Linked DNA regions of Homo sapiens: region 1 is linked to region 2. The links come from fine-mapping of genetic effects on gene expression. A gene starts in region 2. The other region holds a variant in brackets. All regions are shown on one strand. Distances are between the middles of the regions.

The links.
Region 1: its variant is fine-mapped to the expression of SNHG29 in whole blood (TOPMed, PIP above 0.99).

The regions. Positions count from the first base shown.
Region 1 is chr17:16,481,928-16,487,294 of GRCh38, reverse strand. All of the region lies in intron 1 of LRRC75A (leucine rich repeat containing 75A), which reads left to right. It overlaps LOC124903936 (a long non-coding RNA gene), which reads right to left and starts at 1,641. Exons shown (of 3, transcript XR_007065641.1): 1 at 114-1,641. RefSeq lists enhancers at 1-389, 390-1,315, 2,241-3,167, 3,424-4,240. The variant A/G (reference allele first, on the strand shown) is at 3,081.
Region 2 is chr17:16,436,631-16,441,997 of GRCh38, reverse strand. It overlaps SNHG29 (small nucleolar RNA host gene 29), which reads right to left and starts at 3,011. Exons shown (of 4, transcript NR_045025.1): 1 at 2,938-3,011; 2 at 1,745-1,813; 3 at 868-924. It overlaps TRPV2 (transient receptor potential cation channel subfamily V member 2), which reads right to left. Exons shown (of 15, transcript NM_016113.5): 15 at 4,995-5,209. The coding sequence ends at 5,109. It overlaps LRRC75A (leucine rich repeat containing 75A), which reads left to right. Exons shown (of 4, transcript NM_001113567.3): 4 at 1-421. It overlaps SNORD49B (small nucleolar RNA, C/D box 49B), which reads right to left and starts at 2,489; the gene lies at 2,442-2,489. It also overlaps SNORD49A and SNORD65. RefSeq lists enhancers at 1,806-2,707, 3,013-3,342, 3,403-3,592, 2,708-3,607, 3,608-4,509 and 1 more.

The DNA of each region.
Region 1 (5,367 bases), 45 kb before region 2:
TTAGGCAAGCAGGTTGGAAGGCTACCAGACACCGAGCAGGGGGGCCCTACGCTGGGCCTGCTCTTCTTCCTCCACCTGGAATGCTTTTCATGTTTCCACTGAATGCACCTTACCTTTCCAGGGCCACCTTCCTGGGCATGTCAGCCGAAGCTCAGAGATCCATGTGGCTCTTAGTTCCTGCCACACTGGGAGGCATTCAATCCATGCAGAGTTTTTCCCTGATGTTCCTTTTGTTTGTCAGATAAGGTCAAGTGCTTCCTGAGGGCGGAGACCCACCACCACCACTGTTATCCACTGTATGGTATTGAAAACCTGTAGGCTCGTGGCATACCTTAGTGAGTCTGTGTGCCGTGAAGATGTGCGTACGCGTGTGTGTCTGCTGCTGTCGTCAGTGTGTCCTCAGAAAGCACTTGGATTCCCCAGCTACGGCTGTGCAACTGTGGGCTGATTTACCAGGCTTGTTAGTACTGTCATGAGACACAGCACGTTTGCTTTCCGTGTGGTTGGATTTCTGGGAGTGATGTCCACAGGGCTTGGCTGTTCCTGGCAGCCTGCCAGGCGGTGGTGTTCTTGGAGAGAGGAGTGGCATGGTGCCCAGGCTCTGTGGCACTACGGGATCCCATCCGGCAGGTGCAGTCTGGGGCCTCTGCCGAGGTGGCGGGAGGGGAGCGGAGCCTGATGGGAGAGTCTGGCCTCCACATTCCTGATCGGCTCTTGTGCTGAATCATGTTCATTTCCTTCACAAAGAGAAACCTTCCTTTTTAAAATCCGCCGCTCTCTGCCTGGGCTGGATCGAGGCTTTTCCAGTGATAAAGATGCAGAGGGATTCCTGTGTCAGAGCCTGCTTCATTGGTTTCCAAGGCTGCCAGGGACACTGGCTGGGGAAATAGCAGCCTCTGTAGTGGCTAAGCACGACCGCAGGGGCTGTAGCTGGGCCGGTTATTCTGACTTTAGGGTCTGGTGAGGCTGTGGGATGGGGTTGGGGGGTCCTTTTTTCTGGAACAAATGCCACCTCCTCAGAGATTACCAGAAACTGCTTTGCTGTCTTCAGAGGTCCTAAAGTACCCTGGCCTCCATCCATGGACCGTCAGGGTGGGTGCACCCTCCCCTCCCCCCAGTGTCATTTCATTGCCATGCGTGCTTTTCTGGGGCAGAGGCCATAAAAACTGGCACACAGTCTGTTTTCAGGAAATTCTTACAGAATGGATTGAAACTTCCCATCAGGCACACACTTCCTCCAGCCTCTGTCCCTGGCGTTCTCTCTCAGGAGACAGCGGGGTTTGGCTCAGACTTCTGAAGTGTTTCTACTGTGACCGTGGGCCTGGGTATTCCCCCACCCCGCTGTAACCTGTGGGGTGGAAGCCATGATTCCTCCCTGCATCCCCACTCCCTGTCTGCAGGGGAGAGACTCCTTGAAGAAGGGTTATCCAGTGACCAGGGTCTTCTCCAACTCCTCCATCAGGATGCAGAGGGGGTGGGGTCAGCATTGGAGATTCTCCCCGCAGTGTGGGGATCCTCAGCCAGCCATCTGTCTCCCCTTCCCCACCAAGAGCAGTGCTGCCGGTGCCCTGCAAGAAAACCACGCATGCGCGCCCACGCATACACACACACACACACACACACGAACACACACACACACACACACACACACACACACACACACTGCTTGTCCTGGCTCCTCCTGGCTGTTCTTGCCGACTGTCTTAGTCCTTTCCGGCTGCTATAACAAAATACCATAAACTGGGTGGCTTATAAACAGCAGATACTTATTTCTCACAGTCTGGAGTCTGGAAAGTCCAAGATGAAGGTGCTGGCAGATTCACTGTGTGGTGAGGCTGCTTTCTGGTGATGGTACCCTCTCGCTGCATTCTGGCATGGTGGAAGGAATGAAGGGTCTCTCTGGGGTCTCTTTTATATGGGCACCAATCCCATTCATGAGGGCTTTAGCCTTATGACTGAATCACCTCCCGTAGGCCCCACCTCCCGATACCATCACCTTGGGGGTTAGGATTTCAACATATACATTTGAGAATGGAGAGGAGGGGACGCAAACTTTCAGCACTGACTGTCATATCCTCTCCCATTAAGAGAAACTGGAATGGAGGTAGGAGAGGGCCCAGGCATCTAAAACAGCACATTTGGTTGCTGCGTCTTGGACTCACCATTACTAGAAGGGCTGGGTGTTCTGAATGAGAACAGAGACCTTGGCGCGCCAAGCAGGGGCGGGGACCCCCTCCTATGGTGCCTGCTCTCCTCCCTACCCCCACCCGGCCCTGAGCAGTGCCCACGTGGCTCTCCAGGAGCATTTCCCAGCTTTTTTTTTTTTTTTTTAACTTTTATTAGCTCAGACTCCTGGCTGCTGCAGCCATATGGAGCTCTGCCGACGGCTGCTGCTCAAAGAGATGTGGCATTTTGTTGTTTCTAACTTTATCTTAACCAGGAGAGACACAGGAGCACAGCTGAGAGTGGGGAGTGCCCTCGTATGTGAGTGTGTTGGGGCCACCTTCAGAGCTGCCCCTCGCTCCTGCTCGGCCCTCAGTGTCCGCGTGTCTTTCTGCCTCTCTGCCTCCCACTCCCTGCAGCTTTTCTTTGTGTCTCTGTTTCTTTCATTTTGTCTTCCCTGCTGTGTGTTTTTCCCTTCCCTGGGTGAGAAGCAGACTCTTGTTCCTCTGCCGGATCTTGGTCAGCTCCCCTCTCAGCCTCCCATCCTTTGCCAGCGGGAAGGTGGGGGAGTGGGGCCATGAGAACTGGAAGTGGTTGGTGGCGGTCAAGAAGGGTGCCCGGCTCGATTTGATTGTCTGAGTGTCAGCCGTGCCTTGGGCAGGAGAGCAGGCATTAGGGACACCTCCCCAATCTGCACATGGCTTTCTAGTCCATAAAGCCTTTTCTCATGTTTATTTTGCTGCTTAGGGGGTGGATTTTTTTTTGTTTTTTGTTTGTTTGTTTGTTTGTTTGTTTTTGAGACGGAGTCTCGCTCTGTCGCCAGGCTGGAGTGCAATGGCGCCATCTTGGCTTACTACAACCTCCACCTCCCAGGTTCAAGCAATTCTCCTGCCTCAGCCTCCTGAGTAGCTGGGATT[A/G]TATGCGCACACCACCATGCCTGGCTAATTTTTGTATTTTTAGTAGAGACGGGGTTTCACTATGTTGGCCAGGATGGTCTCGATCTCTTGACTTCATGATCCGCCCACCTCAGCCTCCCAAAGTGCTGGGATTACAAGCGTGAGCCACTGTACCCGGCCTCATTAGGTGGTTTTGTGAAGTTGACACAATGTTGCTTAAAGTAAAAATGGTGGTTTTTAAAATATTATAAAAGCAATATACAATTATAGAAAAATGAGAAAATTAGATGAGCAGAAAATTAAAAAAGTAGTATGCATTAAATCATTTATTCAACAATCGAGTTCCTGTTCCTCCAGGCACCAGTCTAGGAACTGGGGATGCAACAGGCAACCCACCAGGAGAAAACCATGGCAGCAGCTGTTTCCCTTCCTCCGGGAGGGATGGCAAGGACCCCAGAAGCCACCACCAGTACAGGTGCGCAGCGTGGCACAGAAGGGAGGCTGGCTTCACTGGGAGCCAGGAGCCCTCAGTTCTGGCCCCAGTGGAAACCCTAACTTGCCCAGCCCTTTCCCTTCTTTGGCCTCAGTTTCCCCAGTTCCAGAATGAAGGAGTGGTGGGCGAAATGACCCCTGAGTTTCCCTACCACTGCTGAGATTCCACCAGGTGCCTGTGGTTTTGGAAAGACCCATTCATTCCCATGTGTGGTCAGTTATTTCTTCCAGGCCCTGAGCCAGATTCACATTCGAACCCTAAGGTCACCCACCTTGGCCTCAGCTGGTGCAAGAGCTGGGATGCAGCGGTCCCAGGACAGAGAGGGGACAGATACCTCCCCACCAGGTACTGGGGCCGACCCCCATACTGCCGAGGCCAACCTGTCTGTGCTGACCGCAGTCCTAGCTGACGGAGGGTGAAAGGCCACATCACATGGTGCCAGGGGCAGAGGCCAGAACCAGGGAACCTGCAGACTTTCACACATGAGCAAAGCCCAGCCCTCACAGAGGCCCGAGCTGCCCTGTGTGCCACAAACCATTCATCTCAGAGCACTGGGGAGGGTAATGAGGCTGGGGCAGGCTCTGCTGGGACCTGCTGTCCACATGACTCAGTGCCTGGCTCCCTTGCCACCTTTCTGCCTACTGTGGGGCTGCTCTGGCCCCTTGCACATCTGGTCTCTCTCCCCTCCCTCTACTTCCCACTCTGGCTTCCTTCTCTGAGGGGCTGCTCTCCATGCTCGTCTGGATGGAGCCTGTCCCCACTCCAGCCTCTGTCCTGTCCACAGAGACCCAGACCTGCCAGCCCCAGCCGAGCTTCAGGACCTTTGCCTTCAGAGGGCAAGAACCCTGCCTGGCACCTGACTGTGCACTAGTACTTGGTTCTTTCACTCAGCATACGTCCCTGGGCACCTAAGTGGAGCTGGCACCAGTTGGGACAAGTAGGGAAAGCAGGGCCGGCCAAGATGCTAATTTCTAGAAGGGCTCAGGGCAGTCGCTGATGCCATAGAGGACTGGCAAGTGACTGCAGGGCTGGCCATGGTCAGATTCCAGCTCTGCCCTTGTCTCTGGCCATGGGGGCCTACACAGGTGCAGGGCACGGCACACACTGGCTGCTGGGCAAACCCCTTTCCTCAGTGGGGCTCATGAGTGGACACAGGCGCTAGGCCCAGGACCTGTGGGAAGCCCCGTCTCCCCCACTTCCTAGGTGGGCTTGCCTGACCTGCTCTGCTGGTGCCTCCCAGCGGCCCTGGTCCTCAAGCCTGTCCCTCTCCTGCCCACTTGGCCTTCCCACGGCCCTCAGCCCAGGTCTCTCCCAGAGCATGCCAGGGACCTGTGGGAAGAGCCCCCAGCTATCTCGGAACCCCCTGCAGTGCCCCCTCCAGGCACATTCCCACCCCATAGCCGCTGTCCCCATGGAGCCTCCACCCACAGATACAGGTGCCAAGGAGGCTTGCAGGACACCCTCGTCCACTGAAGGACACCCAGCACCACAGGGAGCCAGCACTTGCAGCCTGGGAAGTCGGCAACCTGTGATGCCCCCCATCCCACCCCACTGCCCTTAGTTTCTGTCTATGCAGTCACAGCCTCCTGGAGCCCCAGGTTCAGGCCCTACCCAATAGAAAGGGGCAGGAGTGGGGCAGGTTTCTCTCCATTGGCACCGGGGGCAGGTAAGGGCCCAGGAGGTCCTGCCCCACACCAAGCGTAACAGTCAGAATTCCTGCCCTGGACCTAGACCGCCCAGTAGACACCGCGCACCTGGCAGTACCCCCAACACCCCTTTCCCCATGGGGACCTGGGGAGTCCTCTGCGTATGCGG
Region 2 (5,367 bases):
TATTGTAGTATTAGTTCATGGTAACTGCATGAAAAAACATTTCAGGAGGAATTTACAATTTCCAGCTTAAAGAACTTTGCCCACCAACATAACCAATTTATGAAAGTCAATTCATTAAAAGGTATAGAACCTCTTGTTGGGCATGATGGCAAGGGACAAAGCTACAACTTGGCCTGTGCCTTTGGAAGCTGAGGCAGGAGGACCATCTGAGCCCAGGAGCCTGAGACCAGCCTGGGCAACATAGAGAATCCGTCTCAACAAAAAAAAAATTTTAGCCAGGTGTGCTGTGAGCTGTAGTCCCAGCTACAAGGTGGGAGGATTGCTTAGGCCTGGGTGATTGAGGATGCAATGAGCTGTGATTGTGCCACCACACTCCAGCCTGGGCAATACAGCAAGACTGTCTCAAAAAAAAAAAAAAAAACCCAAAAAAACTCAAGAATGTAATGAATGATACCCAATGTGCCTTTTCTAGAAAAAGTTGCCAAATATATCTCTTGGATCTGCTGAGCATGTCCTCTGATACATAAGGCAAGCATGTTTCTACACCCAGTGTTGATGCCAGTTAGTTTTCAGAATCCAAACTGATGGCAGCTACTGGTCCTTGGGACTGACATCCTCTGGGAATATAACCTGCAAAGAAACTACATTTCAATCTCACTTTCTGCACCAACTGACAGTCAATCACAGGGTAAGAGATATCTTCAGAAAACCATAGGTTCACCACTACACAATCTGCCGGTAATTCCAGCTATTTTGGGTGATTTCATCATTTGATATCTTTTTTTTTTGAAGCGAGTTTTAACAAGATCAGCTGTTTATTCATTCCACTATGGGGTTGAAGGGATCATTGGCCAGCTCAAGGCTTACCTTCTCTTGGGCTGAGATGCTGCTGCCAGCTCTAAAACAGCACTCTGTTCTCAAAACCTGGGGGAATGGAGAAGGCGCATACACCTTAGAGACTGCAGATGCAGAGCAGGACAGGCATTTCTGATGACAGTCAATTAATGACTTTACAAATTTAAGTCCATCCTAACAAAAGCCCCTTAAGACCTAATTAGAGGTAATTTTTCTAAGTTTTTGTAAATTATTGAGGACTACAAATCTTAATTAGCTTCTCAGTAGGTTGTAATTTTTTTTTTTTTTTTGAGATGGAGTCTCGCTGTTGCCCAGGCTGGAGTGCAGTGGCACGATTTCGACTCACTACAACCTCCGCCTCCCGGGTTCAAGCGATTCTCCTGGCTCAGCCCCCAAAGTAGCTGGGATTACAAGTACACGCCACCACACCCGGCTAATTTTTGTATTTTTGGTAGAGATGGGGTTTCACCATGTCGGCCAGCCAGGCTGGTCTTGAACTCCTGACCTCAGGTGATCCACCCACCTTAGCCTCCCAAAGTGCTGGGATTACAGGCCACTGTGCCCAGCCTCAGGGGAGTTGTAATCTCCATTTCAGTCATATCAATTTAAACTTCACAAAGCTAAGATTACTTTTCCTTTTCACATCTGAGGAAAACTACATCTCAGCAGACAGGTAATTTGCCCGAGACTAAACAGCCAAGAGGTAAATAGAGTAGCCCCTCTTTCTAGGTAATCCACCCTGGCTCCACTGCCACCGGAAACTAAAATCAGTATCTCTGGGATAGGCTACACTGTTACAAGGTATTAGGTTAACCAAATCCAATTGCCAATATTCGACCTGACAGCTAGGCGTGGTCAGCCACTAGCCTCCCCATAGAGCAAGGCTTACCTCATGGCAGGCTCCTGGCTCCAATACTCAGCTGCCAAACATGATGCTGATTCTTCACGAATTTGCAACCTAGGTGAATATAGCAATTAGGTCACCGTTCAAACAAGTTTACTCCTGGGAACCAGCAAGTGGTGAAGACTTGACTGCAATCAGACAGGAGTAGTCTTCGTCAGTTATCGCTTCTGACGGCACTTCCTATTAGTGATTTCATCAGAGCAGTCAAGCACCTCACAACCCTCCAGTACTGTTCCAACCGCAGATCTAGACCCTACCTGAAACTTAAGCTAACCCTGCTACTGGAGACATTTCTTAACGAAGGAGTTTGTTTCTGCATTATCAGTTTGCTTTAAATGCAGTTCTAGGTTAGGACTGTGGCTGAAGCAGCCATCTCCAGTTTCTATTTAAGTTCCACCCTATGCAATGACATGATAACGTTACCCTAAAGTGTATAAAACACCTAAACGTAGAAAACTGTCAAAACGCCAATTTCCGTGCATTCAAGTGACAAAACTACGTTCCATGTTAAACCCTACACCAGAGAGCCTCTCACCTCGTGGCTACCCCGTCTTCAGCACTCTGCAGTGGGTACGCAATCTTAAAGAGGGAGTAAGGACAGGAATTCAGGGCAGGGCTCTGGCAGTTACGGTCAACTAAGTTGTAGAGGTTTCAGCGACTGCGGTCAGATAGACATTAGACGTCGTCAGTTATCGCTTCTGACGGCACTTCCTATTACAAGTATCATCAGGACAGTCGAATAAGTCTTCCAGTAATACTGTTACAATCTTACCGACGTACACCGCCCTCGGGGTACCCCAAACTGCAAGCCGACCCCAACTTACCCAGTTCTCTCGGGTTTGCACACCCCCACTGTGGGCCGGGGAACCGGGTCCCGGCCTTCGCAGACTCCAGGCTCTGGCAGATGTGGCCCTACCACAAAAGAGTGATCCATGAGCCTCAGCCACGGCAGCCGGATTCGGCCCCGCGCTGCCCTGCCAGGCTGTCCAATACCGGGCCGCAGCGCCCGCCGCGAAAGCCACGCGGGCGCAGGAGCCGGGGAGCCACGCCATCTCAACAGCTGCCCTCCGCCCTCTAGACAGGCTTCCCGGGAACATCTCCCCAGAGACCACAGAAGCTCGAGCTCTTTATTTGCTCTTGCCCCCCAGCTACTACTCCCAGATTCCTAGAGAGCCTACCTCCATAACAACGGGAATGAAAAGGTCACACCTTATGTGCGCCAGGCCCTTAAGGAGTCGGAATATCCCAATCCTCACAAAAGGAGGGGGACGCTGGCAAAGACTCATGGGAACTTTCCGCCAAGTAACGATTTAGACCGGCGCGCTACCCAGGACTCCCCCTCCTGTTGAGTCTATGGTCTCTTCCACAGCCCCGGGAATTCTGGGTCACAACACGCGCGGGGAGTTCCAGGGCGCCTGCGCGAGGGCTGGATCGCGCGTTTGGGCCCCACCTCCGCCACTCCTTAGCTGGGTGGTCTTGGGCCAATTACTCATTCTCTTTAAGCTTCCGATTGGTCCTCTAGTAAACGGAGACACCAGCGCCCCAGAAGATCACGTGAGATGACACACGTGAAAGCCTGTAGAGCTGTGGCACAAGGCAGCCATTCATCCTAGTAGCTCCTCCTGAATCTATTGAGCGTTGCCAAATACTCTCCCCACAGCTATTTCACCACATCCACGGGGCTTCTCAAACCCCTGCGCACTGGTCACCCTCATTACTCCTTTAGCACGACCTTTAGGGAACGAGCTGACGTCTTATCTAGATCCACGTCCATCCTCTGCTCGCCTCTGGGGTAAAGCTCTGCCCACCTCCTTTCCTCTCCTCATTCCTTGGGGCCTCCTCCACCTATGCCCCTGCCTCACCTTCCATGGAAAACTCTCTCTACTGTGGCTTTCCTTTCAGCCTATGAACATGCTCAGCTCTCTCCTTGAAAAAGAATCCATGCAACCACGTTTTGCACACACACGTTATACCAAGGGAAAGAAATTCATTTTGACTGCAAAAAACTGGGAAGACAATCATAAGACCTTTTGAGCTGGCCTCAGAAATAAGTGTAGGGTTTTTGTTGTTGTTGTTGTTGTTGCTCGTTTTTGTGTTTTTTTGAGACGGAATTTCGCTCCTGTTGCCCAGGCTGGACTGCAATGGCGCGATCTCCGCTCACCGCAACCTCTGCCTCCCGGGTTCAAGCGATTCTTCTGCCTCAGCCTCCCGAGTAGCTGGGATTACAGGCATGCGCCACCACGCCCGGCTAATTTTGTATTTTTAGTAGAGACGGGGTTTCTCCATGTTGGTCAGGCTGGTTTCGAACTCCTGAACTCAGGTGATCCGCCCGCCTGGGCCTCCCAGAGTGCTGGGATTACAGGCGCCCGGCAAGTGTAGGGTTTTATTTTATTATTATACTTTAAGTTCTAGGGTACATGTGCACAACGTGCAGGTTTGTTACATATGTATACATGTGCCATGTTGGTATGCTGCACCCATTAACTCATCATTTACATTAGGTATATCTCCTAATGCTATCCCTCCCCCCACCCCCAAGTGTAGGGTTTTAATGGAGGAGGGGGGCTTCCAGCAAGAGCCAGGTCAAGGGATCAAGCACGAGGTCTCTCGGCCTGCATGAATTTGGGGAGAGTGCTAAGGAGGGAGGGGCAACAGAGGTGGAGGGGAGGAGGTGTCTGGAACTGCTTGGGCAAAACCGTGGGGGTCTCGGGATGTCAGCTAGGGCATTCTGTGGGTACTGGGGAGCCTCTCAGGCCTTCAGAGCACAAAGAGGACATGTTTGTCTTATGTCTTAGGAAGGCCCTCTGGCTGCCCTGCAGAGAATGGCTTGGGAGGGGTGGGAATTGAGCAAGAAGCTCGGTAGGAAGAGAAAGCAAGAGAGGTGGCTTTAATGGGTTTTCCCAGGTACCTGCCCAAAAGCAGGGTGGGTGTGGAAAGCAAAGGGTGTCGTGGTGGAGAGAGAGGAGAGGTGGCTGTTTGCCCATGTCCATCACCATATATCTGCCACAACAATGGGCACAGCACCTCAGCCAGCTGCCTGTACCCAGGAAGAGGACAGTCCCCAGACTTGGGGATGTGGGGGTGAGGGTGGGGACACAGCAACTGAGGGTCTCTGTGCCCAGGCAAGGGCAGGAGCAACCTAGTCCCATACACAGACCTGTGCACACAGAGACATGCAGACATTGCCAGCTCTAAGGGTCCCAGCAACTCTGCCCAAATAATGTTTCCAGAAGAGTTAGTTAGTGAAAATATATATTTGCCACCAGAATTCACTGGGACCCCAGAGCCAGCAGATGTGGTTGGAAAGATCCTCTGCTCTGTCCTCTGGCCTCCTGCTGCATCTGGGCCATCAGTTGGACTGGAGGAGCTGGACGGGCACATAGTTTTCCTCAGAGGCACCATCCTCATCCTCCTTGGGAGGGGAAGCCAGGACAGGGTTCTCGAGAGTTCCTGTAAACAGATGGCAAGCACTGTAGCTTAACCCTTGAGTGTGTCCCCAGGAAGCAGGCACCAGGGAAACGGGGCCACAGTCATGAAAACACGTCATGCCGTGGGGACAGCCTCAGCGATCCTGGAGGCCAGCAATCCTTCTCCCTGCTTCCCTCACT